Linked DNA regions of Homo sapiens. The protein of the gene in region 7 purifies or fractionates together with the protein of the main gene of each other region. This does not show direct contact. Each region holds a gene or a part of one and is shown on either strand. Other genes may lie near its edges. The genes, in order: TXN, LONP1, SYNPO, NDRG2, CEP72, RBX1 and FBXO11.

Region 1 (3,500 bases), on a different chromosome or scaffold from region 7:
GTTGAGGAGGTATCACTTCGGGGCCCTTTACAGATATGTGAGCATTTTCACTTAGCCCTAGTGGAGAAGGAAAGGCGATGGGGGAAGGGTGCAGTGTGGCAACAGAGGCGCTGGACCTGGCTTCCAGTCCTGGCTCACTAGCATCTGCTTAGGCCAGTCACTCCTCTTCCTTGAGCCTTAAGACCTGCCCCATCAACCTCCCAAGGTTGCTTATTCATTGAGCAAACATGGAATATCCAATAAAGGGTGAAGGGTCACTTAAAACAGGCATATGGCAGTGCTCTCTAAACATGGGAGGGCGCAACAACCCCAGATTGTGTATTCTTAGCCAGTTTTTGACTCTGTGCCTTGGGCAACCCCTGCCTTGGCTTGTGCTGTCTTCTCCATCTGGCCTGTCCTTTCCTTTCCTACCTGACTAACTCCTTGTCATGAGCTTCACCCCTTCTCCACTTACCGCCTTGTGTGCCCTAAGTACCCAGTGAATCTTGGCAATTATTATAATGATCTTTATGTCTGTCCTTTACCATTAGTCTCAGTAGATTCCTAGGATCAGAGACCCTGTCTTAATTCACGTTGGTTGCCCCTTCACCTAGCACACCTGCCTTGCATGTAGTATAGGTGTGGAATGAATGAATGATGAATGTGATATGGTTGTTAAGTTACTATTCTAGATGTGTCCCAGAGTTGTTTTTTTTTTTTTAAAAAGAGTGTAATTGCATTTTTGTGAAAAATCCTTATCCCTTGTTTTAATCAAACTTAGTCTTATTAAGGTCAATTTAGCTAGGGGAAAATTGCACCTGGAATAGAGAAATTCTAACTGCCACTGATCCTATCAGATAGCAACTTGATTTTTTTTTTTTTTTTTTTTTTTTTTTTTTTTTTGAGATGGAGTTCACTCTGTCACCTGGGGTGGAGTGCAGTGGCATGATCTCGGCTCACTGCAACCTCTGCCTCCCGGGTTTAAGCAATCCTCTGTCTCAGCCTCCTGGGTAGCTGGGATTACAGGCATGCACCACCATGCCTGGCTAATTTTGTATTTTTACAAAATTAAAACCCCAGTAGAGACGGGGTTTCACCATGTTGGTCAGGCTGGTCTCGAACTCCTGACTTCAGGTGATCCACCCACCTCGGCCTCCCAAAGTGCTGGGATTATCCACCACGCCCGGCCTTGATTTTTATTTGAAAGCAATAATAGGTGCCAGATGCCATGATAAGCCCTTTGCATGCACTATGTCATTTAATCCTCACGATAACTATACGAGTATTTTTTATTAGCACCCTCATTGAACAGGTAATGGCACTGCAGCACAGAAGGTAAAGTCAGTCTCTTGAGGCAGACCAATGCACCATACTGTACTGAGGACAGGTCTTCTTACTGCCTTTAGGAAGTACAGTCATGCATCACTTAATGATGAGGATACTTTCTGAGAAATGTTAGGCAATTTTGTTGTGCACACATAGAGTGTACTTACACAACCTAGATGGCATAGCCTCCTGTACACCTAGGCTATGTGGTAAAGCCTGTTGCTCCTAGGCCACAAACAGGTAAGGCATGTTACTGTACTGAATACTGTAGGCAGTTATAACACAACAGTAAGTATTTGTGTATCTAAACATAGAAAAGGTATGGTGAAAACATGATATGAAAGATTAAAAAATGGTATGCCTTTATAAGGTACTTGCCATAAACGGGACTTGCAGGACTGAGAGGTGCTCTGGGCGAGTCAGTGAGTGGGTGGTGAGTGAATGTGAAGGCCTAGAACCTGTAGACGTTATAAACACTGTATGCTTACAAATTTTATTTTTAAAATTTCTTTTTTCAGCAATAAATTTATTGTAACTTTTTTACTTTATAGTTTTTTTATTTTTTTAACTCTTTAACTCTTGTAATAACACTTAGCTTAAAACACGAATGCATTGTACAGCTCTACAAAAATATTTTCTTTATATCCTTAGTCTATAAGCTTTTTTTAAAAAGACTTTTTAAACTTTTTGTTACAAACTAAGATTCAAACACATACATTAGCCTAGACCAACACAGGGTCAGGATCATCAGTATCACTGTCTCCCATCCCCACATCTTGTCTCACAGAAAGGTCTTCAGGGACAGTAACATGCATGGACCTTTCATCTCCTATGATAACAGTGCCTTCTCCTGGAATGCTTCCTGAAGGGCCTGCCTGAGCCTGTTGTATAGTAACTGTCTTTTTAAAAAAATAAGTAGGAGTACACTCTAAATTAATAATGAAATTAAAGTAAATACAAAAACCAGTAACGTGGGTGTTTATTATCAAGTAGTATATACTGTCCATAATTGTAGTGATATGCTTTTTTAAGTGAAAGCAAGTTTATTAAGAAAGTAAAGGAACAAAAGAATGGCTATTCCGCAGGTAAAGCAGTCTGTAGTGGTATACTTTGTATGTAATTGCAGCGCAGATTTGTTTGCACCAGCTAATGCGATGGGCTATGACATTAACCCATCACTAGGTGAGAGGAATTTTTCAACTTCATTATAATCTTATGGGACCACCACATATATGCAATCTGTTGTCGATCTAAATGTTATATGGTGCATTACTATAGGTGTGCAAAGCACTCGAGGACTTCCGTATGACAGAGCTCCTCCTTCATGTCTGCTTGGTGCACCCTGATCACCCTGAATGTATCTTTTTTTTTTTTTTTTTTGAGACAGAGTCTCACTCTGTCACCCAGGCTGGAGTGCAGTGGTACCATCTCTGCTCACTGCAACCTCCACCTCCCGGGTTCAAGCGATTCTTCTGCCTCAGCCTCCTGAGTAGCTGGGACTACAGGCAGCCGCTACCACACCAGGCTAAATTTCAACTTTTTAGTAGAGACAGCATTTTGCCATGTTGGCCAGGCTGGTCTCGAACTCCTCACCTCAAGTGATCCACCCGTCTTGGCCTCCCAAAGTGCTGGGATTAGAGGCATGAGCTACCGTGCCTGGCCTGAAAGTGTCTTTTAAAACCTTGAAGTGACCCTCTGACAAACTGAGGAACTTTAACTTTGCCTCCATAGATTGATAGAAAAGTATGAGTAGTAGCCCTTTTGAAAATGATAGACCAACCTTATTTCTCTGACAGCCAACAGGGTTATGATACTTATTTTATAAATGGTAACCTCCCTCTGACCCTTACTTGGAGTGAGTTTTCAATAGTATGCATTCAATAAACATTCACCATTTTTATTCCAGCCATTACTGTCCTTGTGCCTCTTACTGGAACCTGTACTTTCATGCTCAGCAGGTGTCCAGCATTAAAAGAAAAAGTAAAGATTACCTAGAAAGAACTCCTCAACAGTAGTGCCACCCACCATCCTAGAGGTCGTCATAGTGTTTGTAGCTGGCCTTTCTTCCCCTTGAGAATTCTCCGTTGGTTTCCGTGATTTGGTTATCAACAGTCCTGCCTGCTCGCTTGCTGTCCTGTGTAGCTTTTGCTGCTTAGGTGCTGAGTGGTTCTATATTTCTTTCCCAGTCCTCTTTT
Region 2 (2,406 bases), on a different chromosome or scaffold from region 7:
GTCACGGACACCATCCCCGAGCCGCTGCGAGACCGTATGGAGATGATCAACGTGTCGGGCTACGTGGCCCAGGAGAAGCTGGCCATTGCGGAGGTAAGCCCAGCCCCTCCCCACTGCTGTCCCCTTCCCAGAGCAGGGGGCGCCCCCCAGAGCCTGCAGAGGCCGTGCCTCTGGGAGCTCCTGGGCCCGGGAGAGACAGGTGGGACCTGCGGCCGAGGAGCAGATGGGGCCGTGAGAGACACACCAGACGCTTGCGAGCAGCTGCAGGTGGCGCGAGTGGGCGCAGGGTTTAGGGCCTGGGACTGTCCAAAACACCGCCCACCACCGTCAGGCCACACACTCTGTCTCCCGGGGCCTCCAGGCTGCCCCATGGTGGGGCCCCCACCTGGCCCAGAGTGTAGGGAAGGTTTCTGGCAGCCGGAAGCAGTGGGGCCTGTGGCTCCCACCCAGAATGAGGCTTGGAGGAGAAGTGGTTTCAGTGAGGAGCATGCAGGGGCCCATATTTCTCATGTGTTTTTTTTTCTGCAAAGGTGCTGAGTGCATTTCTCCCCTAGGAGCCCTTTGACAGCCAGTGGTGGGCACTGGTCCCTGCCCTTGAGGCCCTCCCAGCATCCTCGTGTCCCCTGGGGGCTTCAATGCCCACTGCTGGGCCCAGTTCCCAGCCTGACTTCTCCAAGGGACGGGCCTGTAGTTCCTGGGGACAGGACTGGGGGGCATGGGGACCCCTCAGGGCATCAGGAGTGCCCCCCAGTATCAGTGGCAGATGTAGAGTGGCTTGCATGGCTCTGTCCGTCTCACAGATGCCCTCCCCCATGCCATTAGAGCTCAGAACTGTGGCAAGAATTGTGTGGGGCTGTGGGTGACCCTGGAGCCCCTGACCCAGTCCCCTTCCTCATGTGCTGAGGGCAGCAGCCACGTAACCAGTCAGCCACCCTACAGGCCCTGGGTCTGTGTATGGGGCCAGCCCATGGGGCAACCAGGAGGCCTTCCTGGAGGAAGCGGCATCTAAGATACCATTGGGGGATAGGAAGTGGATCCAAGCAGAGGACGCAGCACAAGCAAAGGCCTGGGGCCTCTGGGCATGGTGGGTGGCAGGGCGGGGTGTCCAGGCCCTGGTTTCACCATCAGGGACCTCGTTCCCAGGCCAGGGTCTGGGGGCCATGGGAGAGGCATTGGCTCCCAGGTTCTAGACTGAGCTGGTGGGCAAGGTCCCTCCAGACCCAACCCTGACGGTTGCCCTTGCAGCGCTACCTGGTGCCCCAGGCTCGCGCCCTGTGTGGCTTGGATGAGAGCAAGGCCAAGCTGTCATCGGACGTGCTGACGCTGCTCATCAAGCAGTACTGCCGCGAGAGCGGTGTCCGCAACCTGCAGAAGCAAGTGGAGAAGGTGAGCGGCCAGCCCGCCCTCCTGGCACCTGCCGCCCACCTCACCATCCCACGCTGATCACCCCACCTTTCCATGCCCATCATCCCACTTTCCTGCGCCCATCACCCCACCACCCCGCGCCCGTCACACCTTTCTGTGCCCGTCACCCCACCACCCCGCACCTGTCACCCCACCTTCCCGTGCCCATTGTGTTGCCCTGACCGCCCAGGTGTTACGGAAATCGGCCTACAAGATTGTCAGCGGCGAGGCCGAGTCCGTGGAGGTGACGCCCGAGAACCTGCAGGACTTCGTGGGGAAGCCCGTGTTCACCGTGGAGCGCATGTATGACGTGACACCGCCCGGCGTGGTCATGGGGCTGGCCTGGACCGCAATGGGTGAGCGTGGTGGCGGGAGAAGACCCCAAAGCCATTCCCATTTCTACCCGAGAACAAGCAGGTCCCACCTTGTACACCTGTGCAGTGGGCCTCAGGTGGCTCTGAACGGCCTCTGGCGGGGGGTGGTGTGCTGGGAGCCCAGGGGGTCTGGGCTGAGGGAGGGGAAGGCTGTGACACATGGGGGTGGCAGCACACCATGGGCCTTATGGATTTGGGTGCCACTTTGATAGGCTTACAGGTAAGGACAAGCTCATCCAGATGGGCCTTGGGGCCACCACGCACAAAGGAGGCGAGAGGGCAAAGGGGATGGTGCGGGAGGGGCTGGAGAAGGGCTTGTGTCTGTCTGCAGGGCAGCGGCAGCTGGGCCTTGTAGCCCTGGGCGTGTCCTCTGTGGCTGGCAGCTGCTGGGGGCTGCCCTGTGGGGCGTACAGAGCCAGGAACCCGCAACGCAGCAAACGTAGAGGCCAGCGTTGGCTCACGATGGGACACCAACCCCTGCCCAGGGGCACCAAGATGCTAAACTGGGGCAGGAGCGGTCAGAGTGGCCCCGAGGGGTGGAGTGAGCACCGGCCTGGGCTCCGAGGCCTCCCGTGTTCACAGCTCCACACCTGTTTCAGGAGGCTCCACGCTGTTTGTGGAGACATCC
Region 3 (3,500 bases), on a different chromosome or scaffold from region 7:
GTGATTCTCCTGCCTCAGCCTCCCGAGTAGCTGGGACTACAGGCATGTGCCACCATGCCCGGCTAATTTTTGTATTTTTAGTAGAGATGGGGTTTCACCATGTAGGCCAGGCTGGTCTCGAACTCCTGACCTCAGGTGATCCACCCGCCTCGGCCTCCCAAAGTGCTGGGATTACAGGCGTGAGCCACCGTGCCCGGCCACCTGACTTGTTTATCACTCTAACAACAGCCCCTAGAACAGCACCTGTCATACAGTGGCACTCGGTAGATATTGCTGAATGCACAAATGAACCCCCAGAATATTTTCTGTGTGCCTTCCTTAGGGCCCTTTATACTTTCAGAATTATAGCATAGGAATGTGCTCTAATTTTTTTAAACAAAAATGTTTTAATAAACCACCGTCTGCTTTTTTTAATTTGTATTTATTTATTTTTTTGAGACAGTACCTTACTCTGTCACCCAGGCTGGAGTGCAATGATGAGATCTCAGCTCATTGCAGCCTCGACATCCTGGGATCAAGTGATTCTCCTGCCTCAGCTCCCCAAGTAGCTGGGACTACAGATGTATGCCACCATGCTCAGCTAATTTTTGTATTTTTTTTTGTAGAGACAGGGTTTCACCATGTTGCTTAGGCTGGTCTCAAACTCAGGTGGGCGCAAGTGATCCGCCCACCTCAGTCTCTCAAAGTGCTGGGATTACAGGCATGTGCTTTGATTTTATAAAGAGACGCCACTAATATTTCCCCTTTTTAGGGTAGGTAATACATTCACATAGTCTAAAAATTTATTTATTCATTCATTTTTATTTTATTTTTACTTTTCTGAGACAGGGTCTTGCTCTGTTGCCCAGGCTGGCATGCAGTGGCACCATCATAGCTCACTGCAGCCTCAACCTCCTGGGCTCAAGTCATCCTCCCACCTCGGCCTCCCAAATATCTGGACTATCGGTGTGCGCCACCACACTTAGCCAATTTTTTTTTTTTTTTGTATTTTTTGTAGAGAAGGGGTCTCCCTGTGTTGCCCAGGCTGGTCTCAAACTCCTGGGCCCAAGTGATACTCTGGCCTTGGCTTCCTAAAATGCTGAGATTATAGGCATGAGCCACTATACCTGGCCCTAAAAATTAAAACATAAAAAGGTATACAGTAAAAAGTGTCACCCCATCCCTGATTACTCTGTATCACAATCAGTTTCTTCTATCTCCTCCCAGGATTTCTTCCTAGTTTTACTTAAATACTCATTTTAAAATTCACATCTTTTAACACTAGAAAAGTAACAAATTGAGCTAGTTTCACCAATGACTACTGTAGAACATTGCATTCTTTTATTTTATCTGCACAAGACCACAATGAGACAAGCATTGCTTGCCTGTGTTTTACAGAAGAAGAAACGGAGGTTCAGAGATATATAAGGAACTGCCCCAAGGTTGCAAAGCCAAGGGTGACAAAGCTGGAGTCAGAACTGTTCTTTCTGGGGTCTCTAGTCCATGCTCAAGTGGTCTACTCATCCCAAAAGGTCTCTTTGGGACATAAGGGGCAGGAACAAGGTCATCATGGGTCGGGGTTCAGTCTGGGATTTGAGGTCCTGAGATCAGGCTGAGTTCAGTCCCCTATTAATCTATAAGATCACCATAGGCAACCATTTCTCTTTCTATCCCCAGTGGCCAGCTGGCACACAGTTGATGCTCAATTTATAATTGTTGAATAATAAATGAACAAATGCTGCATGAACAAATGCATTGACAGACAGGTGGATGGATCAGCCTGTGACCAGCAACATCAGTGGCTAAGAAAATTCCTCCCTCCATTGCCCCTCTCCTCCCTACTGTGGGAAGCTAATTAGTTCTTGAGGAATCTGACCCTGCCCTCCCCTCCCTTGCCCTCATTAGCACTGGCCATGGCATGCTGAGTCTGTCTCCAGGGACAGTCTTTCCAGGCATCTTGCCAGCGAGGCTCTGAATTCATGGACTCTCAGAGCTGGAAGAATTCTGACAGAGGAGGTATTTCATCACCACCCTGTTTTATAGGTGGGAAACAGAGATCCAGAGAGTAGCCCAGGGTAGAGCCGGGTGACCCCACATGGGACCCGCAGGGAGGCCCACACAGAGCAAAGAAGCTGTGACCAGCAGCGTCACAGCAGCTCCACTGGGGCAGCCACAGGTTTTCTGGCCCCAACCTCCTTCTTCCCTCCTCCATCGAACCTGGTTTTCCCCTAACCTATTAGAAACAGTGAAAGCACACAGCCTATCCCACCCACCCATGATATTACTCCCCCCGAGTAGGACTCTTCTCCTGCCTGGATCACCCTATCTATTAAAGATGTCTATTAGCCATCTATTAGCCAGGCTGCTCCCCTGGGAGGAGCCTAAGGGATGGGGTGCCAGCCACACTGGAGGGCTCTGAGAGGTTGCTCAGCTCATGCTGTGTCTGTCTCCCCTGCTCTGCTTAGAAACCAGGCCTCCTGGCCTGAATCCAAGCTCTGCCATTTGCTAGCCGTGTGACCTTGGCAAGTTACTGTACCTCTCAGAGCCACAGTCTCCTTAACTTGACATGAGTGTTGGGAGGCCACAAAGAGATCATGAAAATGCCAAGGCCTGACTGCCATGAAGCCCAGGTGGACAGACAGAGGGCTCATGCTATCCTGGCATAAGCTGGCAATTGGTCACCCCATTCCACTCCCTGGAAAAGGTCAGATACTCTTCTAGCACAGGGGATTGACTGAAGGTCAAATAGCAGGAGATTCCAGAGCTACACGGAGGCAGAGCTTACTGCCCCAAAACACAGAACCTCGGAATCTCAGAGGTGGCTGTCACCAAGTCCAATTCCCACACAATTCTTGCATCTTCAAAACAACATGCTGAGTGTGCAAGTCTCTGCTGACATACTCAGGTGACGAGCTCACTCCCCCGGGAGGTGTCTTCCACTAATTAACATTCCTCAGCTAGAAAGTTCCTCCTTACATTCACTTCCAATCACTTTTTTTTTTTTTTTTTTCTGAGACAGGGTCTTGCTCTGTCGCTGGAGGGCAGTGGCACCATCATGGTTCACTGTAGCCTCAACCTTCCAGGATCAAGTAATCCTCCCACCTCAGCCTCCTGAGTAACTGGGACTATAGGCATATGCCACTATGCCTGGCTAATTTTTGTATTTTTTGTAGAGACAGGATTTCACTATGTTGCCCAGGCTGATCTTGAACTCCTGAGCTCAAGTGATCCACCCACCTCAGCCTCCCAAAGTGCTGGGATTACAGGCGTGAGCCACCACGTCCAGCCATCATCCGCTTTCTTGATGTGGTTCTGCCTCCCCAGGCTGCACAGAGAAAAAGTCTTCTCAGCCGGGCGCGGTGGCTCGCGCCTGTAATCCTAGCATTTTGGGGGGCCAAGGCAGGTGGATCACGAGGTCAGGAGTTCGAGACCAGCCTGGCCAATATGGTGAAACCCCATCTCTACTAAAAATACAAAAATTAGCCAAGCGTGGTGGCGGGCGCCTGTAATCCCAGCTACTT
Region 4 (2,895 bases), on a different chromosome or scaffold from region 7:
TTCTAGCCGCCGAGACCTGAACTTTGAGCGTGGAGGTGATATCACCCTCAGGTAAGACTTTAAGAGATAATGCATTGCCTGTCTCCCTGGATCTTCCCTAGGAGCTTGTGTCCCTTAGAAGAAGGAGAATCTTTTGCCAGGGAACTTCCTTGTCATGTCCCACCCCATCCTATTTGGTAAATCACTTCCCTCTAGGTCTTCCCCCTTTGAATCCTCTTGGTGGCATCAGCAGGGAGACACAGAAGTGTCTTTCCTCTTTGGAGCCAGATATTTTTCCAGCTGCACTCCTAGGCAGAGGCCAGTGAGGGAGTGCCAGGGGCTCACTGCCTTCTCCCCAACACTGTGTCTTTAGGTGTCCTGTGATGCTGGTGGTAGGAGACCAAGCACCTCATGAAGATGCAGTGGTTAGTAGGGAATTTTGGGGTGAGTGAGGGAGGAGGGTTGGGGTCCTAAAGTGGTGGTCAGAAGAGTATCTTGCCAAGGGGATGTCCTGTTTGGCACAGGGAGATCAACTTTGGGGCACTAAGAATTTGATTCCTGGTAAGGAGGAACTGGGTAGGGAGCTGATAGAAAAGGGACTGGGGTCTGGGTTCCTGGGTCCCTTACGGGGGAGGCGCCACAGTGGGCGTGACCTCATTCATTCAGCCTCCTGCTTACTCCAGGTGGAATGTAACTCAAAACTGGACCCCACCCAGACCTCGTTCCTCAAGGTCAGTAACCTGTTCCTGGGCCCCCGTCCACAGTCATATATCCTCTCTACATGCAGCTGCTAAGCCTCCAGGGCCCGGCATGGGAGCAAATGGGGTGAACGAAGAACAAAACAAAGGGGCTAGAGTGAAGAAGCTAGGGAAGAGAGACCCTTTCCACCTCTCTGCATGGCTCATTTATGTGTGTTTCACTTTTTCTGGGTGGTGCTCTCCTGAACAGATGGCTGACTCCGGAGGTCAGCCCCAGCTGACTCAGGTGAGTGCCGCTGCCGTCCATGGGATGGGGAAGGGACATAGGATACCGGTGGCACTGGGCTCTGCCCTTTGCCACACACCCGGCCCCACAGTGCCGCAGCCTCAGGCTCCAGCTCTTCCTCTAACCTCATCTCACCGTCTCCCTCGCCTCTTCTTACTTCCGCAGCCAGGCAAGCTGACCGAGGCCTTCAAGTACTTCCTGCAAGGCATGGGCTACAGTGAGTATCGGGACAAGAGCTTGCTGCACTAGAGGAGAGATAGGCACTGACGGGGTGGAACCGTTTTAGGTGAATGCCTGGACTCACCGCTATCTGCCCAATCGAGCTCGTTGATCCCCTGGCTTAGTTATAACTAGTCCATAATCCAAGGACCACACCCTGAGTCGCCAGCCCCCCTTCCCCACTTCCTCTCTGACTGCTTGTGCATCGTGCTGTCTCCACAGTGGCCTCATCCTGCATGACTCGCCTGTCCCGGTCTCGTACAGCCTCTCTGACCAGTGCAGCATCCGTTGATGGCAACCGGTCCCGCTCTCGCACCCTGTCCCAGAGCAGCGAGTCTGGAACTCTTTCTTCGGGGCCCCCGGGGCACACCATGGAGGTCTCCTGTTGAATGGCCCTTGTTGCCCTAGAGTGGGACCCAGCCCTCACCTCCCCCAGAGCTAACCTGGGAGGTGCTGAAGGGGCATTGGGCCACCGTAAGCAAGGGAAAAAGGGCAGATCATGCGGGGAGATGACCTTGATCTTTGATTGCTACCCTAACCTTGACCTTTAACCCGTGATTCCCCCCAGCTCCTGGAAGAGATGTCCTAATATCTCTTAGGGACCCAGACCCCTAAATTCTCCTCCTCCCCCATTTTGATGTTAAGGTGGAGAGGGCATATGCATCCTCTGTCCTGATCTAGGTGTCTATAGCTGAGGGGTAAGAGGTTGTTGTAGTTGTCCTGGTGCCTCCATCAGACTCTCCCTACTTGTCCCATATTTGCAAGGGGAGGGGATTTGGGGCTGGGGCTCCATTCACCAAAGCTGAGGTGGCTTCTCATTAACCCTTTAGGACTCTGAAGGGTATGGACCTACGTGAATGTGTGTCAGGGGGAGACTTGCTGGTGGGTTAGTGGTCCTCAGGATGTGATAGAAACATCCAGTGTAAAAAGGAAGTTGGAATGGGAGTTGGCGGGCAGTGAACGAGTGTGGGGAAGGATTGGTGCTGGGGCAACAGGAAGGGGCCTGGGGCCGTTTGGCTGCACTAACTTTGGTAGCTCAGTGTGCATCTAGAGTGGGACTGGGGAGGGAGCTAAGCTTGGGCTGGGCTGCTTGGGGCTTGGCATAGGGTGGAAAGGGCTACCCTGGGGCTCTGACCACACTGTAGTATGTGTGGAGGGTGCCCTCCCGTCTCCCACAACTTCTGCTATAACAATAAACTGTAGAGGAATCTGAGTACCGTTATTATTCTTTGTCTAGGTGTGCCTGCATCATGCTCCTCTTCCTATCTTCTCCCTGTCCACGTCTCATATTCTCTTCTCAAAGTGATATAAACCCTGGGAGAGGGCCTTTGTGGCATAGGCACTTCACAAAATATGACCACATAGAAACTGGCTCTTTTCCAATACAACGGTGTTGCCTTGATATTGTAGTATTTTTAAGCCTGGGAGAGAGGAACCATTTAGATCTTAGGAGACTTCCTTATCAACTATGGGTAACTGAGAAAGGCCACAGGATTTCAGAGATACCACCAACATCACCACCTTTAAGAAAGAATTGAAGAGGCTGGGCAAGGTGGCTCGCATCTGTGATCCCAACACACTTGAGAAGCTGAGGTGGGCAGACCACTTGAGCTCAGAAGTTTGTGACCAGCCTGGGGAACATGGTGAAACCCCGTCTCTGCAAAAAATACAAAAATTAGCTGGGCTTGATGGTGCACACCTGTAGTCCCAGCT
Region 5 (3,500 bases), on a different chromosome or scaffold from region 7:
TAATCACATAGCAGAACAGAATCTTCCAGAACTTTAATTTTTGAACCAATCCTAGTGGGGTTCTGTCCAGTGCCGGGATTTGGACCAGTCCTGGTGGGATTCTGTCCAGTGCCGGGATTTGACCCAGTCCTGGTGGGGTTCTGTCCAGTGCCGGGATTTGGACCAGTCCTGGTGGGGTTCTGTCCAGTGCCGGGATTTGGACCAGTCCTGGTGGGGTTCTGTCCAGTGCCGGGATTTGGCCCAGTCCTGGTGGGGTTCTGTCCAGTGCCGGGATTTGGCCCAGTCCTGGTGGGGTTCTGTCCAGTGCCGGGATTTGACCCAGTCCTGGTGGGGTTCTGTCCAGTGCCGGGATTTGGCCCAGTCCTGGTGGGGTTCTGTCCAGTGCCGGGATTTGACTCAGTCCTGGTGGGGTTCTGTCCAGTGCCGGGATTTGGCCCAGTCCTGGTGGGGTTCTGTCCAGTGCCGGGATTTGGCCCAGTCCTGGTGGGGTTCTGTCCAGCGCCGGGATTTGGCCCAGTCCTGGTGGGGTTCTGTCCAGCGCCGGGATTTGGCCCAGTCCTGGTGGGGTTCTGTCCAGTGTCGGGATTTGACCCAGTCCTGGTGGGGTGCTGTCCAGTGCCGGGATTTAGACCAGTCCTGGTGGGGTTCTGTCCAGTGCTGGGATTTGACCCAGTCCTGGTGGGGTTCTGTCCAGTGTCGGGATTTGACCCAGTCCTGGTGGGGTGCTGTCCAGTGCCGGGATTTAGACCAGTCCTGGTGGGGTTCTGTCCAGTGCTGGGATTTGACCCAGTCCTGGTGGGGTTCTGTCCAGTGCCGGGATTTGGCCCAGTCCTGGTGGGGTTCTGTCCAGCGCCGGGATTTGGCCCAGTCCTGGTGGGGTTCTGTCCAGCGCCGGGATTTGGCCCAGTCCTGGTGGGGTTCTGTCCAGCGCCGGGATTTGGCCCAGTCCTGGTGGGGTTCTGTCCAGTGCCGGGATTTGACCCAGTCCTGGTGGGGTTCTGTCCAGTGCCGGGATTTGGCCCAGTCCTGGTGGGGTTCTGTCCAGTGCCGGGATTTGACCCAAGTCCTGGTGGGGTTCTGTCCAGTGCCGGGATTTGACCCAGTCCTGGTGGGGTTCTGTCCAGTGCCGGGATTTGGCCCAGTCCTGGTGGGGTTCTGTCCAGTGCCGGGATTTGACCCAGTCCTGGTGGGGTTCTGTCCAGTGCCGGGATTTGGCCCAGTCCTGGTGGGGTTCTGTCCAGCGCCGGGATTTGGCCCAGTCCTGGTGGGGTTCTGTCCAGCGCCGGGATTTGGCCCAGTCCTGGTGGGGTTCTGTCCAGTGCCGGGATTTGACCCAGTCCTGGTGGGGTTCTGTCCAGTGCCGGGATTTGGCCCAGTCCTGGTGGGGTTCTGTCCAGTGCCGGGATTTAGACCAGTCCTGGTGGGGTTCTGTCCAGTGCCGGGATTTGACCCAGTCCTGGTGGGGTTCTATCCAGTGCCGGGATTTGGCCCAGTCCTGGTGGGGTTCTGTCCAGTGCCGGGATTTGACCCAGTCCTGGTGGGGTTCTGTCCAGTGCCGGGATTTAGACCAGTCCTGGTGGGGTTCTGTCCAGTGCCGGGATTTGGCCCAGTCCTGGTGGGGTTCTGTCCAGTGCCGGGATTTGACCCAGTCCTGGTGGGGTTCTGTCCAGTGCTGGATTTGACCCAGTCCTGGTGGGGTTCTGTCCAGCGCCGGGATTTGGCCCAGTCCTGGTGGGGTTCTGTCCAGCGCCGGGATTTGGCCCAGTCCTGGTGGGGTTCTGTCCAGCGCCGGGATTTGGCCCAGTCCTGGTGGGGTTCTGTCCAGTGCCGGGATTTGACCCAGTCCTGGTGGGGTTCTGTCCAGTGCCGGGATTTGGCCCAGTCCTGGTGGGGTTCTGTCCAGTGCCGGGATTTAGACCAGTCCTGGTGGGGTTCTGTCCAGTGCCGGGATTTGACCCAGTCCTGGTGGGGTTCTGTCCAGTGCCGGGATTTGGCCCAGTCCTGGTGGGGTTCTATCCAGTGCCGGGATTTGACCCAGTCCTGGTGGGGTTCTGTCCAGCGCCGGGATTTGGCCCAGTCCTGGTGGGGTTCTGTCCAGCGCCGGGATTTGGACCAGTCCTGGTGGGGTTCTGTCCAGCGCCGGGATTTGGACCAGTCCTGGTGGGGTTCTGTCCAGCGCCGGGATTTGGACCAGTCCTGGTGGGGTTCTGTCCAGTGCCGGGATTTGGACCAGTTCTGGTGGGGTTCTGTCCAGTGCCGGGATTTGGACCAGTCCTGGTGGGGTTCTGTCCAGTGCCGGGATTTGGCCCAGTCCTGGTGGGGTTCTGTCCAGTGCCGGGATTTAGACCAGTCCTGGTGGGGTTCTGTCCAGTGCTGGATTTGACCCAGTCCTGGTGGGGTGCTGTCCAGTGCCGGGATTTAGACCAGTCCTGGTGGGGTTCTGTCCAGTGCCGGGATTTGGCCCAGTCCTGGTGGGGTTCTGTCCAGTGCCGGGATTTAGACCAGTCCTGGTGGGGTTCTGTCCAGTGCTGGATTTGACCCAGTCCTGGTGGGGTTCTGTCCAGTGCCGGGATTTGGCCCAGTCCTGGTGGGGTTCTGTCCAGCGCCGGGATTTGGCCCAGTCCTGGTGGGGTTCTGTCCAGCGCCGGGATTTGGCCCAGTCCTGGTGGGGTTCTGTCCAGTGCTGGGATTTGACCCAGTCCTAGTGGGGTTCTGTCCAGTGCCGGGATTTGGCCCAGTCCTGGTGGGGTTCTGTCCAGTGCCGGGATTTAGACCAGTCCTGGTGGGGTTCTGTCCAGCGCCGGGATTTGGCCCAGTCCTGGTGGGGTTCTGTCCAGCGCCGGGATTTGGACCAGTCCTGGTGGGGTTCTGTCCAGTGTCGGGATTTGACCCAGTCCTGGTGGGGTGCTGTCCAGTGCCGGGATTTAGACCAGTCCTGGTGGGGTTCTGTCCAGTGCTGGGATTTGACCCAGTCCTGGTGGGGTTCTGTCCAGTGTCGGGATTTGACCCAGTCCTGGTGGGGTGCTGTCCAGTGCCGGGATTTAGACCAGTCCTGGTGGGGTTCTGTCCAGTGCTGGGATTTGACCCAGTCCTGGTGGGGTTCTGTCCAGTGCCGGGATTTGGCCCAGTCCTGGTGGGGTTCTGTCCAGCGCCGGGATTTGGCCCAGTCCTGGTGGGGTTCTGTCCAGCGCCGGGATTTGGCCCAGTCCTGGTGGGGTTCTGTCCAGTGCCGGGATTTGACCCAGTCCTGGTGGGGTTCTGTCCAGTGCCGGGATTTGGCCCAGTCCTGGTGGGGTTCTGTCCAGTGCCGGGATTTAGACCAGTCCTGGTGGGGTTCTGTCCAGTGCCGGGATTTGACCCAGTCCTGGTGGGGTTCTATCCAGTGCCGGGATTTGGCCCAGTCCTGGTGGGGTTCTATCCAGTGCCGGGATTTGACCCAGTCCTGGTGGGGTTCTGTCCAGCGCCGGGATTTGGCCCAGTCCTGGTGGGGTTCTGTCCAG
Region 6 (2,716 bases), on a different chromosome or scaffold from region 7:
TGCTGTAGGGCAGAGCCAATTACAAAGGCCCCCTGAAAACTATGAAAAGTCCTCTGCCTTGACATGTATTCCTGTTATGGTTCCCTGTAGAATGCAAGCTCCAAGGGCAGGAAGGACCGTCTCAAATGTTTTTATATTTTACACGGTACTTAGCATATATTTTGCTGAAGGGAGCCCAACAGTACCACTCAGATACTGAGTATTTGGCAGGTTTCTTAAAAACTGAATACGCATTGATAAGACTTCCAAATGTTTTACCAAAATAAATTATTGAATTTAAAGGCAAAATCACTGCACCAATAATGGATTTCTAAACATTTCACAAACAAAAGAATCCTATTTTTTGGTTTTTTTAAACCCAAGAATAGCCTAATAAAGACGTATTTAAATTAAGAAACTCCTTTCCCGTAAAAAATTCAGTAAAGAAAATGACCAATAATTCAAAATAAAGCAACGTGCAGGAAGATAAACACAGCAGTTCACAGAAAAGCGTAAGAGATATAAAAACATGAACAATTGCCCAATCTTACTGAAAATTCAAAAATGAAAATCGAATACTGATTGTCACCTATCAGAGTGGCTAAGATGGAAAAACTGTATAATGAAGCACTGGCAGGAAATGAAGAAAGGGGAGTTCTGCTTCACTGTTTGGAGGGAGTATAAATTAGTGTGTATTCTTAGAAATGGAAAACCTGACACTATTTATCAAAAACAAAAATATACATTCCTTTTTTTTTTTTTTTGAGACGAAGTTTTGCTCTTTTGCCCCGGCTGATGTGGCGTGATCTCAGCTCACTGAAACCTCTGGGCTCCCGGGTTCAAGAGATGATTCTCCTGCCTCAGCCTCCCAAATAGCTGGGATTATAGGCACCACCATGCCTGGCTAATTTTTGTATTTTTAGTAGAGAGGGGGTTTCACCATGTTGGCCAGGCTGGTCTTGAACTCCTGACCTCAGGTGATCCACCCACCTCAGCCTCCTAAAGTGCTAGGATGACAGGTGTGAGCAACTACACCTGGGCTTTTTTTTTTTTTTTTTTTTAAATTGGGTCTATTACCTAGGCTGGAGTGCAGTGGCATGATCTCAGCTTACTGCAACCTCCGCCTCCTGGGCTCAAGCGATCCTCCCACCTCAGCCTCCAGAGCAGCTGGGACTACAAGTGCATGGCACCACATCCAGCTAATTTTCTTTCTTTTTTTTTTTTTTGAGATAGGGTCTCACTCTGTCATTTAGACTGGAGTGCAGTGGCACGATCTCTGCTCACTGCAACCTCTGCCTCCCAGGCTCAAGTGATTCTCCTGCCTCAGCCTCTGGAGTAACTGGGATTCCAGGCATGCACCACTACCGCCCAGCTAATTTTTGTATTTTTTAAAGTAGAGACGGGGTTTTACCATGTGGGCCAGGCTGGTCTCAAACTCCTGACCTCAAATGATCCACCTGCCTCAACCTGCCAAAGTGCTGGGATTACAGGCATGAGCCATCAGGCATGGCCTAATTTACTATTTTTTGGTAGAGATGGGGTTTCAACATGTTACCAGGCTGGTCTCGAACTAGTGGACTCAAGCAATCTGCCCACCTTGGCCTCCTAAAGTGTTGGGATCACAGGTGTGAGCCACCAAGCCCAGCCATACTCTTTACCCATAAATTCCTCTTTTAGGAATTACTGCTCCAGATACAGCTACACATTTACACAAAGCTTCATGTATAAGGATGTTTCTCCCTTCACATTGCTTGCATCAGTGAAAAACTGGAAACACAAATGTCCACCAATAGGGACTGACTTTGTTTTTTGAGATGGAGTTTCGCTCTTGTTGGAGTGCGATGGTGCGATCTCAGCCCACCACAATCTCCGCCTCCTGGGTTCAAGTATTCTCCTGCCTCAGCCTCCCAAGTAGCTGGGATTACAGGTATGTGCCCCCACGCCCAGCTGATTTTGCATTTTTAGTAGAGACGGGGTTTCTCCATGTTGGCCAGGCTGGCCTTGAACACCCAACCTCAGGTGATCCGCCTGCCTCGGCCTCCCAAAGTGCTGGGATTACAGGCGTGAGCCACCGTGCCTGGCCAGGGACTGACTTTTTAAAAAATATAAAAAATGTTAAAAACATGCAAACAAATAAAAAAAGAAAAGAAAAAAGTTAAGGTACATTTACATAAAGAAATACTCTGCAACCATTAGAAATGAGGTAGTTTGTTATTTGTGGAAATGGAAAATCTCCAAAATGTACAAAATGAAAAAAAAAAAAAAGGTGAATTACTGTATAGGATACTCACTTTTATGTTAACAAAAATATATATATACACACAACCATGTAAATACCGGGACATATAAGAGATAGTCAGAAAATCTCCTAAGAAGCTGTCCTGTTGCTGATGGCTAGCTCCAGCAAGCCGGAGCAGGGGCCTACAGTGGGAAATTCATATTCTGTGGTATACCCTTTCAACCATTTAAATTTTTAAAAGTTTACCAGGTCATGTTTTATTTATATAACAATAAAATCTAATCAGGATAGCCATAAATGCTATATCAGAATTAATCACTGTGAAATAAACCAGTGAAATATGATAAGTGGATACAAGTCTAGCCCAAAGCTACCTGACATTAGGTAGTCCATGGAGCCTCATTAGGATGTAATTCTGGAAATATTTAAGAGTTCATAGATTATCACATTTTCTACTTTCACAGACCGTAGAAGGTTGGGAAACCTGCCGGGCACGGT
Region 7 (3,500 bases):
AGCCTGGGTGACAGAATGAGACCCTATCTCCAAAAAAAAAAAAAAAAGATGTTCATACACCAGACTACCCTCTGACACCCTTTTTAACCTACCTGGTATCTCATGCACTATATTGAGCCGTTCCTCTTCATAGACACACTCCTTGCCAAGCTGCCTTCACCATATATGGTCTCTAACCATGTAGTACCAGTTCCCTTCCCACTCCTCTCAGCAAGTGGATATCCTCCTCACCTTTTTTTAAAAAAAAGTCTTCCACGGCTGGGCGTGGTGGCTCACGCCTGTAATCCCAGCACTTTGGGAGGCCGAGGTGAGTGGATCACGAGGTCAGGAGATCAAGACCATCCTGGCTACCACGATGAAACCCCATCTTTACTAAAAATACAAAAAATTAGCTGGGCGTGGTGGCGGGCGCCTGTAGTCCCAGCTACTCGGGAGGCTGAGGCAGGAGAAAGGCGTGAACCCAGGAGGCGGAGCTTGCAGTGAGCCGAGATTGCGCCACTGCACTCCAGCCTGGGCGACAGAGCGAGACTCTGTCTCAAAAAAAAAAAAAATCTTCCACATTTTATAGAAATCTAACATTTCTTTCATATAGCTATCCAGTTGGTTGGAATTTCATATAAAACTTACATCTGCTCCCTCCCGAATTTGAAGTTTTAAGAAAGTTTTCTGTATCCATAGAACTTTTTTTAAAAAGGGTATAATTTTTCTTATTGCTTTTGTTTATAACAGATGATGATGTGCCTGCAGATATGGTTGCAGAAGAATCAGGTCCTGGTGCACAAAATAGTCCATACCAACTTCGTAGAAAAACTCTTTTGCCGAAAAGAACAGCGTGTCCCACAAAGAACAGTATGGAGGTAACTTTAACTGTAGTTGCTTTTCTTTTTGTAATGAAAGAATTTTCAAGAAACAAAAAAGGGAATGTCATCCTTTTTTAGAAGTAATGATTATGGATGATAAGAATATTTGCTTTACTAGTTTCTGTTTTGTTTTTGAAGGGCGCCTCAACTTCAACTACAGAAAACTTTGGTCATCGTGCAAAACGTGCAAGAGTGTCTGGAAAATCACAAGATCTATCAGGTATTTCCTGTGGGAAAGTAACAAATAGGGTAAAATAATTTTTTTTAATTTTGCTTGATACCAAAAAATGAAAATTAAGTGTATTCGAGTATTACCTTTGGGATTCAGAAAGTGATTATTACAGAATAAACTTTAGAACCCTGACCTCTCCCTCTGACTTTTATTGTTGTATAAAAATGCTTTTTATGTATTTATTTTAACCATTTCTGAGATGGCACATAATACCTAAAAGAAGGAGTACTTTTGTTAGTTCAGGATAGAGATAAATATGTGTTACCCATGAAACCCACATGCTTATAAAATGACCATTATCCAAAAAAAAAAAGCTATTCATTAGATAAAATGAAAACTGTGTTCTTTAAATAATGAGAAAGTTATTGCTCGAATGATAGTTTATATGTTAATCTCTTTATAGCAGCACCTGCTGAACAGTATCTTCAGGAGAAACTGCCAGATGAAGTGGTTCTAAAAATCTTCTCTTACTTGCTGGAACAGGATCTTTGTAGAGCAGCTTGTGTATGTAAACGCTTCAGTGAACTTGCTAATGATCCAATTTTGTGGTAAGTAAAAACCTATTCCTTATTAACTTGAGATATGTTATTTGTTGCCCAAAATGCTAAACATGGTAGGAAAGTCGGTGCGGTGAGTTGGTAGTTACAATTAGTTGGAACAAAATTAAAATGCTTATCAATTCCAAGTTACAAATGGGGGCTGTCAGTCCAGGTGGTATTTATAAATCAGTAAATGAAGTCTTTTATCTGCTGTTTATCAGTTAATAGCAACTGATTGATTATGGGAAATGTTTTTCTTTTAGTAGCTTTTTAGAAACATAACAGTGTAATTTAAAATAGCTAATGAATTTTAAATCTGATAGATTAGAATGTAGGTTTTATATATCACTTTTGGAAAACAGTTGTATTCATGAATCTTTAAATAATTCATGCCCTTTGACCCAGTAATTACTGGGTCATGCCCTTTGACCCAGTAATTCTACTTCTGAAAAGTTTTTTTTGCTTTATGTACAGATTTTTCGTAACAGCCTAGTTAATAATGAGAAAAATTATAAATAATCTAAATATCCAGAATTAAGGGAATGAACTACATAAACTGTGTAATGTGTACTTGGAGAGTTGTGATATAACCACTAATAGTAATTTTTACAAAGAGATTTTCATTTGTTTTTTGAGAGACAGGGTCTTGCTCTGTCACCCAGGCTGGAGTGCAGTGTCACGCTCCTAGCTCACTGCAGCCTCAACCCTCTGGGCTCAAGCCATTCTCCCACCTCAGCCTCCTGAGTAGCTGGCACCACAGGCATGTGTCACCATGCCCAGCTAATTTTTTTTTTTTTTTTTTTTTTGAGACAAAGGGTCTCACTCTGTTACTCAGTCTGATCTTGAACTCCTGGGGTCAAGTGATCCTTCTACCTCGGCCGCCCAAAGTGCTGGGATTATAGGCATGAGCCATTGCACCCAGCCCAGGTTTTTAATAAGATGAAAAAAATGCTGTTATAAAAAGTGAAAAGAGGCCAGGTGTGGTGGCTCCTGCCTGTGGTCCCAGCTACTCCGGAGGCTGAGGCAGGAGGATCATTTGAGCCCAGGAAGTCAAGGCTGCAGAAAGCCGTGATCGTGCCACTGCACTGCAGCCTGGGCGGCAGACGGAGACCCTGTTTTTTAAAGAAAAGAACAGAGTACAAAATTGTATATGCTATATAATCACAACTATAATAAATGATCTGTAGATAAAATGAGTGGAAGCAAATATGGCAGACTGTTAATAGTTAATATATTGAAACTATAGTTCTTTACACTTCTTTGTTTTACAACGGTTATATGTATTACTTTTATGATGCACAAAAGGTGCACCATATATATATATGTTTTTGTTGTTGTTTTTGACGGAGTTTCGTTCTTGTTGCCCAGGCTAGAGTGCAGTGGCACAATCTTGACTCACTGCAACCTCTGCCTCCCGGGTTCAAGCAATTCTCCTGCCTCAGCCTCCTGAGTAGCTGGGATTACAGGCACCTCCCACCATGCCCAGCTATTTTTTGTATTTTTAGTAGAGACAGGGTTTCACCATGTTGGCTAGGCTGGTCTTGAACTCCTGACCTCAGGTGATCCTCCTGCCTGGGCCTCCCAAAGTGCTGGGATTACAGGCATGGGCCACTGTGCCCGGCCCACACCTTACATTTAAGAGAAAAATTACAAAGGAGAAATGAGAATGAAGAGCAGCAGAACAAAACAGCATTGCTCACTGTACCAGAAATGATAATAGTTAGCCATTACTCCAGTTTGAAGATTTCATTGTGCTTGATAGGATATAAATGGACTGAAGATATAGGACAAATTAAGTTCAAAGTATTTTTACTGAAAATTATCTTTTTAGGCTAGGCGAAGTGGCTCACGCCTATAATCCCAGCACTT

The links.
Region 1: the proteins of FBXO11 (region 7) and TXN purify together in Homo sapiens (affinity purification with mass spectrometry; 2 studies listed by BioGRID and IntAct, with this or other methods). This does not show direct contact.
Region 2: the proteins of FBXO11 (region 7) and LONP1 purify together in Homo sapiens (co-immunoprecipitation; 2 studies listed by BioGRID and IntAct, with this or other methods). This does not show direct contact.
Region 3: the proteins of FBXO11 (region 7) and SYNPO purify together in Homo sapiens (co-immunoprecipitation; one large-scale study listed by IntAct). This does not show direct contact.
Region 4: the proteins of FBXO11 (region 7) and NDRG2 purify together in Homo sapiens (affinity purification with western blotting; one study listed by BioGRID). This does not show direct contact.
Region 5: the proteins of FBXO11 (region 7) and CEP72 purify together in Homo sapiens (co-immunoprecipitation; one large-scale study listed by IntAct). This does not show direct contact.
Region 6: the proteins of FBXO11 (region 7) and RBX1 purify together in Homo sapiens (co-immunoprecipitation; 4 studies listed by BioGRID and IntAct, with this or other methods). This does not show direct contact.

Annotation. Positions count from the first base shown.
Region 1 is NC_000009.12:110,246,508-110,250,007, reverse strand, and holds part of TXN (thioredoxin), read left to right. Parts: intron 1-3,500. UniProt on the Homo sapiens protein: Participates in various redox reactions through the reversible oxidation of its active center dithiol to a disulfide and catalyzes dithiol-disulfide exchange reactions.
Region 2 is NC_000019.10:5,693,741-5,696,146, reverse strand, and holds part of LONP1 (lon protease homolog, mitochondrial isoform 1 precursor), read left to right. Parts: coding exon 1-93; intron 94-1,245; coding exon 1,246-1,386; intron 1,387-1,594; coding exon 1,595-1,760; intron 1,761-2,377; coding exon 2,378-2,406. UniProt on the Homo sapiens protein: ATP-dependent serine protease that mediates the selective degradation of misfolded, unassembled or oxidatively damaged polypeptides as well as certain short-lived regulatory proteins in the mitochondrial matrix.
Region 3 is NC_000005.10:150,643,660-150,647,159, reverse strand, and holds part of SYNPO (synaptopodin), read right to left. Parts: intron 1-3,500. UniProt on the Homo sapiens protein: Actin-associated protein that may play a role in modulating actin-based shape and motility of dendritic spines and renal podocyte foot processes.
Region 4 is NC_000014.9:21,016,272-21,019,166, reverse strand, and holds the end of NDRG2 (protein NDRG2), read left to right. Parts: intron 1-6; coding exon 7-51; intron 52-352; coding exon 353-404; intron 405-503; coding exon of another isoform or gene 504-540; intron 541-645; coding exon of another isoform or gene 646-662; coding exon 663-710; intron 711-927; coding exon 928-963; intron 964-1,128; coding exon 1,129-1,180; intron 1,181-1,404; coding exon 1,405-1,571; 3' UTR 1,572-2,395; downstream 2,396-2,895. UniProt on the Homo sapiens protein: Contributes to the regulation of the Wnt signaling pathway. Down-regulates CTNNB1-mediated transcriptional activation of target genes, such as CCND1, and may thereby act as tumor suppressor. May be involved in dendritic cell and neuron differentiation.
Region 5 is NC_000005.10:629,340-632,839, forward strand, and holds part of CEP72 (centrosomal protein of 72 kDa), read left to right. Parts: intron 1-3,500. UniProt on the Homo sapiens protein: Involved in the recruitment of key centrosomal proteins to the centrosome.
Region 6 is NC_000022.11:40,968,378-40,971,093, reverse strand, and holds part of RBX1 (E3 ubiquitin-protein ligase RBX1), read right to left. Parts: intron 1-2,716. UniProt on the Homo sapiens protein: E3 ubiquitin ligase component of multiple cullin-RING-based E3 ubiquitin-protein ligase (CRLs) complexes which mediate the ubiquitination and subsequent proteasomal degradation of target proteins, including proteins involved in cell cycle progression, signal transduction, transcription and transcription-coupled nucleotide excision repair.
Region 7 is NC_000002.12:47,836,999-47,840,498, reverse strand, and holds part of FBXO11 (F-box only protein 11), read left to right. Parts: intron 1-729; coding exon 730-857; intron 858-998; coding exon 999-1,080; intron 1,081-1,495; coding exon 1,496-1,640; intron 1,641-3,500. UniProt on the Homo sapiens protein: Substrate recognition component of a SCF (SKP1-CUL1-F-box protein) E3 ubiquitin-protein ligase complex which mediates the ubiquitination and subsequent proteasomal degradation of target proteins, such as DTL/CDT2, BCL6, SNAI1 and PRDM1/BLIMP1.